Linked DNA regions of Homo sapiens. The protein of the gene in region 1 purifies or fractionates together with the protein of each later gene. This does not show direct contact. Each region holds a gene or a part of one and is shown in the gene's direction. Other genes may lie near its edges.

Region 1 (3,566 bases):
TGACCCTACAGTTTGAAAGAAAAAAAAACGTTGAAAAAAGGAAGGTTTCTTTAGCTTTAGCTTCTTGGCCCAGGAATTTTTCCTGGCATTCAGGTTCTGTGCTGAAACCACAAGGGAGGGGGAGGTTCCCATTTCATTAGCAGTAAGCTTCTGCTGTGCCATACCACCAGGCTGCCTGCCTCTAGGAAAACCCTGTTCCTTTTGATAGAATCTAAAAGGGGTACCAGTGGGTCCCTTGTAGCAATACAGACTGGATAGTAATGGCCATTAGGGCAGAAAGTAGTCTGAGCAGTGGGAGATTTTAGTTAACAGCTATTTCTGCTTCCAAACTCTGATAACGGTTGTGAAATTACTGACTGACTTCCTTTGGCAGTGGGGCCAAGAAACAATATATATGAATGTGATACATGTGTTTAGTAAAATCTAGCTTTGAACATGGAAGAAAGTAATTCTTTGAAAACCTTTTAAATCTGAATATCTAAAACAGGGAGCGGTAGTGAAATAGAAGGTTCAGCATTGATTATAAATACCAAGGACTTAAGGCAAGGGAGGAAAAACAAAGTACCTTCTGAACTTAGCTTTCCACTGAGTAATGTTTACTCTTCACAGCACCCACCACAAAAACAAACTACTATCAACAGGATCAATTTTATTAACAACTTGTATCTCTTCTAAGCAGACTCTGTCCGTATGCCTTTCCAAACCATAGCTGCCTTAACTGACTGCCTTGGTGTTTATTCTAGCGTAACATTGTCCAGTAGAACTATCTGCAGTGATGATATGTTCTGTGTCTGCACTGTGTAGTAGTAGACACGGGTGGCTGCTGAGCACTTGAAATGTGATTAGCGCAACTGAGAAACTGAGCTTTTAATTTTATTTCATTTTAATGTAATTAGCTACACGTGGCTAGTAGCTGTTGCAGCGGACACCACAGGTCTAAGGAAACAACACAGAACATTCAGCTAGGGGTGTACCCTCATAGCCTGTGAGTGTCTCTTACTCACTGTCATGGGGGAAGGTGAGTTACACAGGGAGGTACCTTCTTGCCGCCTCTTTTAGGATTTCCTAAGTATCTCTCCTTCATCCTACCTGCCATCATTCTTTGACTTTATGTCCATTTTCTAAACCTTTGCCTACACTTGCTCTTATCTACATGGAGTTGTTCAACCTGCCGAAGTGATTAAATTCTGTGTACACAGGCCGTATATATTGCAGCTAATTAAAACAACAAACATCCTAGGCATGCACAAAGGTATAATTCACCGTTATAACAGGCAGCAACTTGTATGTCTAATATTAGACATCTTGCTTTCTGTCTGTAGGCATAGAAACAAAGGATTGAAAGCCATTCTCATACAGCAACCGGGTGAAAAAAACAAAACACTGTGCTGTTACAATGTGCTCCCTGCTATTTATACTCATTAAGTTTCCCCAATATTAAAGGGCTGACAACTTAATAAACTGTACTCACTGCAAAAGGGATAATAAGCACACCAGGAAAAGGATTTAAGGAGACAGACAACAAAGAGCTGGCAGAAATTAATTCCACCATGAAGCTTGAGTGCTGTAGGGATCCTCTGGCTTCGCTCCCAAAGAGAGGATCCTGGGAGAAGTCTGTATCCAGCACAGAGGGGAAAAATGCTGTCACCATCCAAAAATGAAAGGAGGATGACATGGCTCACTAAGCAAGTACTAGGGCACCTGGCATGTGAGGTCCTTGCTTTCCCTAGAAGCCACTGGTGGGGGGCAGCAAATTCCTGGGATTAGCTGGTTATCTGGTGGAGAAAGCTAAAGCTGGGGTCAGGGATCTTTAAAAGGCAAGCACATTTTGCTTAAAGGATTAGCTCCAGAGGAGCCCTGGGATGGGTGCCAGCTTAGCTCAGACAGAAGTCATGTTCTTAGCGTTCAGGCAAGTCAGCCTTTGCATAAGACACCCTGTCGTCGGGCAGGAATTTGCCGTTACAAATCCCAAACCCATGACAGTAGGAATGTCACCCCATGCTTCACATATGCATTATGCTCTGAACCCAGGGCAACTATGACCATGCTTCCTTCAATCTTTATTGAGCAAATATATGGCCAAGGTTATTCCCTTATCTGTGACTGGGTGGAGAAGAATGGTCAGGAAGGGAGACTGCCTCACTGTTGACCAATTCCAAAACCTAAGGATAAGCCCATGGGGTATGTCAAGCTAGCAGGTTCTTCTCGGCCCAGGATGACAGTGTCTGGGGGCATCACAAAACAGTTGTACAATCCAATGCAGCCGTCCTGCTCATACAGTAAGATCCATTAGGCCAGAGCAGGCCTAACTTGGGTGGAGAGCCCAGCCTGAGCACCAGAATTAGTTGCTTCCACTTGTGCAGCCTGCTGAAGAGCCGGACTCAGGTTGAAGCAGCTTTCCTCCCAGTCTTCACTGATCTCCACAGGGAGAAAACAGAAGTCCCCACAAGTACCAAGCTCTTCCTGAGACTGCAGCCACCACACCTCGGGGAAGGGGAGGCTGGCAGGAGAGGAGTACACTGTCCCGGTGACCCACACCAAGGTGGCTCCAAGTGTAAACAAAGCCTGGTGCCAGGGACAGAAGAGGATGCAGCCTGATGTGAGGTTTTCAGAAAAGTGAAATGACCTAGCACCAGGTTGGGATTGCTTGGGTCTGCACAGCAGTCCCTCACACTGCCCTTACAGAGAGGAACAGGTTATTTGATGACTTGGGCCCATGAGATGTTCTCCAAGCCATTGACAGCTGAGAGAATTCAGGTGATCCACCTGAATATCAGAAGTTTCAGCCCTCTTAGAGTTCGTAACAGAAACCCAGAGATTTACTGTCAGCTAGAACAAAGATGTAAGGTCTCAAGTAAAATAAAGGATTGTCCTTCAAAACAGCAATATTAACAGACTTCTGACTCAGGAATTTGTTCATCTGTCCTTGCTGGACCTGAGCCAAGTGCTTGTAACGTGATCTATGATCTATCTGTATGCTAAAGTGTAACAGGTACGTGAGTAAAAAAATCTTTAAGGTTCATTGTTGCAGGTAAGACTCAATAGAAATTGTGCTAAACAGCATAAAACCTGTGGTCAGAGTCTGACCCAATACCACAGACATTTCTGAGCCCAAAGGGACTCAGTTTTGGGTACTTTGATTTTTAAATACAATCAGCCTATTGCATCCTGTAGATGAAGAGACACGCATGCTTCGTTAGAACTGGTGTTCTGGACTAAATATCAATAAATAAGGGAATATAACTCTCTCCCCAGGGAAGAATTTTGAGCCAGAGGAAGAAATGGTAGCATTTCAGGCCTTTAAAGTCAGGTGTTGTACCTGGTCAGAGAAAAACTTCCCATAAAGCAGCCCCTCTATAGGGACTCCTAGTTCAAATACCAAATTCAGAAGCCACCAGCCCTATCAACCTAGCATTCCCTCTTCCCCACTGCACTTTACCAAGTAAATATCTGTAAGAGCTGCATCTACCTATCAGGAGTAAAACTAAATGACCATTCCCCCCGTTCCCCAATCTTCCCCCCACCCTCTGAAGCCCCCACCTTGAGGTTGGCCCAGATCCTGAGTC
Region 2 (3,653 bases), on another chromosome or scaffold:
CTGGGTTCAAGCAGTTCTCTGCCTCAGCCTCCCAAGTAGCTGAGATTATAGGTACCCGCCACCATGCCTAGCTAATTTTTGTATTTTTAGTAGAGACGGGGTTTCACCATGTTAGCCAGGCTGGTCTTGAACTCCTGACCTTGTGATCCACCCACCTCAGCCTCCCAAAGTGCTGGGATTACAGGCGTGAGCCACCATGCCCAGCCTGTGTGCTTGTTTTTTAATGTAGCTTTACTGTTTTTAAAAAATTCATGGACTTTTATTTTTGGTACACTTGTCACAATTAATGGACTAATATTGATACATTATTATTTTTTTTATTTTTTATTTTTTTGGAGACAGAGTCTCGCTCTGTCGCCCAGGCTGGAGTGCAGTGGCGTGATCTCGGCTCACTGCAAGCTCCGTCTCCTGGGTTCAACCGATTCTCCTGCCTCAACCTCCTGAGTAGCTGGGACTACAGGCATGTGCCACCACGCCCAGCTAATTTTTGTATTTTTTTAGTAGAGATGGGGTTTCACCATGTTGGCCAGGATGGTCTTGATCTCTTGACTTCGTGATCCGCCCGCCTCGGCCTCCCAAAGTGCTGGGATTACAGGCGTGAGCCACCGAGCCCGGCCTTGATACATTATTATTAATCAAAGTCCATAATTTTAAAACATTTCCTTAGTTTTTATGTACTGTTCTTTTTCTGTTTGAGGACCCCGTGTAGGATAGTACATCACTTTTAGTTGTCATGTCTCCCTGGGCTCTTCTTGACTCTGTCAGTTTCTTAGACTTTCCTTGTTTTCAGTGCCCTTAATTACTTTGAGGAGCACTAATCAGGTCTATGTAGGAGGCCCCTCTGTTGGAATTTGTCTGTTGTTTTTTCTCATAATTAGGATGGGATTATGGATTTTTATAAGTAAGAACATAGAAGTAGAGAGCCATTTTCCTCACATTATATCAAGAGTACATACTACCAACCTGAGTTTTGTGTGTTGGTATTGACCTCGATCACCTTGCTGACCAGTGTTAACTTTCTCTACTGTAAAGTTAGTCTTTTACCCCGCCTTACCATACCGTACTCTTTGGAAGGAAGTCACTGTGTCCAACCCAGACTTAAGGACTAGGGAGTTATACTCCACCACTGTGAGGGAAGAGCATCTTTATAGATTATTTAGAATTCTGTGTGGGGATTTGTCTGTTCTCCTCCATTTATTTATTTATTCAGTACATTTATATTAGCGTGGATTCGTGGGTATTTATACTTTGGGTTGTAATCCAGTCCTACTTTATTTTGTTGCTCAGTTTCAGCTTTGGCAGTTGGTGACTTGTTCAGTTGGCTCCTGTTTCCCTTTGTCATAACCACCTCACTGTTTTGTTTTTGTTTTCTTGATTACTTCCTTCTTTTCTGGCACTAAAAGATGCTCCAGGTTCATCTTGTGTTCCTTATTCCTAGAATTAGCCATTTCTCTGAATAGTACTGGTTCTTTTTATTGGAAAATGACACTAGAAACCAAGATCTGGTTTTAATATGTTTTTCTCCCCACTTTCTTCTTCTGTTCTAGTTACCATGGTTTGGGACCACAGAGATCACGTCAACAACAGCCTGTTCCAAATAGTGATGCTGTCTTGAATTGTCCTGCCTGCATGACCACACTTTGCCTTGATTGCCAAAGGTAATGGATGAAGGACACACACACACACACACACACACATACATATTTTGTTTAAATTAGAAACAGACTTTTTTTTTTTTGAAGTCAGAGTCTTACTCTGTTGCCCAGGCTGGAGTGCAGTGGCACAATCTCGCCTCACTGCAACCTCCGCCCCGTGGGTTCAAGCGAGTCTCCTGCCTCAGCCTCCCAGGTAGCTGGGATTACAAGCGGCCACCACCATGCCTGGCTAGTTTTTGTGTGTATCTAGATCTAGATCTAGATCTAGATAGATAGATAGATAGATAGATATAGTTTTGTTTTGTTTTGTTGAGATGAAGTCTCACTCTGTCGTACAAGCTGGAGTATAGTGGTGCAATCTTGGCTCGCTGCAACCTCTGCTGCCCAGGTTCAAGTGATTCTTCTGCCTCAGCCTCCAAGTGGCTGGGATTACAGGTGCCTGCCACCACACCCGGCTAATTTTTGTAGTTTTAGTACAGACAGGGTTTCACCATCTTGGCCAGGCTGATCTTGAACTCCTGACCTTGTGATCCACTTGCGTTGGCCTCCCAAAGTGCTGGGATTACAGCTGTGAGCTACCACGCCCGGCCTTATTTTTATATTTTTAGTAGAGACAGGGTCACACCATGTTGGCCAGGTTGGTCTTGAACTCCTGACCTCAAGTGATCTGCCCACCTCGGCCTCCCAAAGTGCTGGGATTACATGCGTGAGCCACTGTGCCCAGCCCAGAAACAGACTTTTGAGGTACTCAGGAATTCTGATAAAGTTCTGTACTTAGATTCTTGGTGCTGTGTGACTAATCTTTATACAATTAATTTTGATTATATATAGTTATATTAAATGTAGCTTTTATACTTTTAAAGTTGGGCACAGTGACTCATGCCTGTAATCCCAGTGCTATGGGAGGCTAAGGCGATCACTTGAGCCTAGGAGTTTGAGACCAGCCTAGGCAACATAGTGATACCTCATCTCTACAAAAAATAAAAAAATAAAAAATTAGCTGAGTATAGTGATGTATGCGTGTAGACCCAGCTACTCGATAGGCTGAGGTGAGAGGATGGCTTGAGCTCAAGAATTCAAGACTGCAGTGGGCTGTGACCACCACTGCACTCCAGCCTGGGCAACAAAACAAAGGTGAGATCCCCATCTCTCTCTCCAAAAAAAAAAAAAAAACGGGCTGGGCGTGGTGGCTCACGCCTGTAATCCCAGCACTTTGGGAGACCGAGGTGGGCGGATCACGAGGTCAGGAGATCGAGACCACGGTGAAACCCTGTCTCTATTAAAAATACAAAAAATTAGCCGGGCATGGTGGCGGGCGCCTGTAGTCCCAGCTACTCCGGAGGCTGAGGCAGGAGAATGGCGTGAACCCAGGAGGCGGAGCTTACAGTGAGCCGAGGTCACGCCGCTGCACTCCAGCCTGGGCAACAGAGCGAGACTCCGTCTCAAAAAAAAAAAAAAAAGGTATCTTTTCTAGTGCAAAATAGCAGCATAGAAGCAAACTGGCTCTCCTTCCCCCTGCAGAATACCAAAACCAAATATACAGCACTGAAGCTATCACCACCAGTATCCCAGATCTCAATATAAGGAGGAGACAGTTTCTAGGGCCACAGAGAAGTAAAAAAAACTTAAAGCAGACAGTAAGAGAATTGTTCTTCCATATCTGCTTATCCTTCTCCACAATCTGCCTGGCACCAAGTGAGCAGAAAAATTCCCCTGAGCTCATGATTTTTACATTAGAAAAAGTAAGATGGAAGTGTACAACCAGCTTCTTTACCTTTTTGAGTTCTCTGGTAAGAGATCTGTCCCTGCCTCAACTCATAGGAAGCACTGAGAGTGCCTGAAGGAAAAAATATCCCTGAGGATAGCCAGAGACAAAGAAGGATAGCCAGAGACAAAGCCAGGTCCCAAGTGTGAACCCCTAGCCAGCATTCCCATCCTACTGGGATATCCCTATCCTCTTTGGGACCCACCCCCCACTTCATTTGGAACAGGCAGCAC

The links. Proteins that work in one complex are often made in the same cells at the same time.
Region 2: the proteins of SLC7A6OS (region 1) and EAPP purify together in Homo sapiens (affinity purification with mass spectrometry, with the first as the bait; one large-scale study listed by BioGRID). This does not show direct contact.

Annotation. Positions count from the first base shown.
Region 1 is NC_000016.10:68,297,490-68,301,055, reverse strand, and holds the end of SLC7A6OS (probable RNA polymerase II nuclear localization protein SLC7A6OS), read left to right. Parts: 3' UTR 1-3,022; downstream 3,023-3,566. UniProt on the Homo sapiens protein: Directs RNA polymerase II nuclear import.
Region 2 is NC_000014.9:34,522,702-34,526,354, reverse strand, and holds part of EAPP (E2F-associated phosphoprotein), read left to right. Parts: intron 1-1,547; coding exon 1,548-1,658; intron 1,659-3,653. UniProt on the Homo sapiens protein: May play an important role in the fine-tuning of both major E2F1 activities, the regulation of the cell-cycle and the induction of apoptosis. Promotes S-phase entry, and inhibits p14(ARP) expression.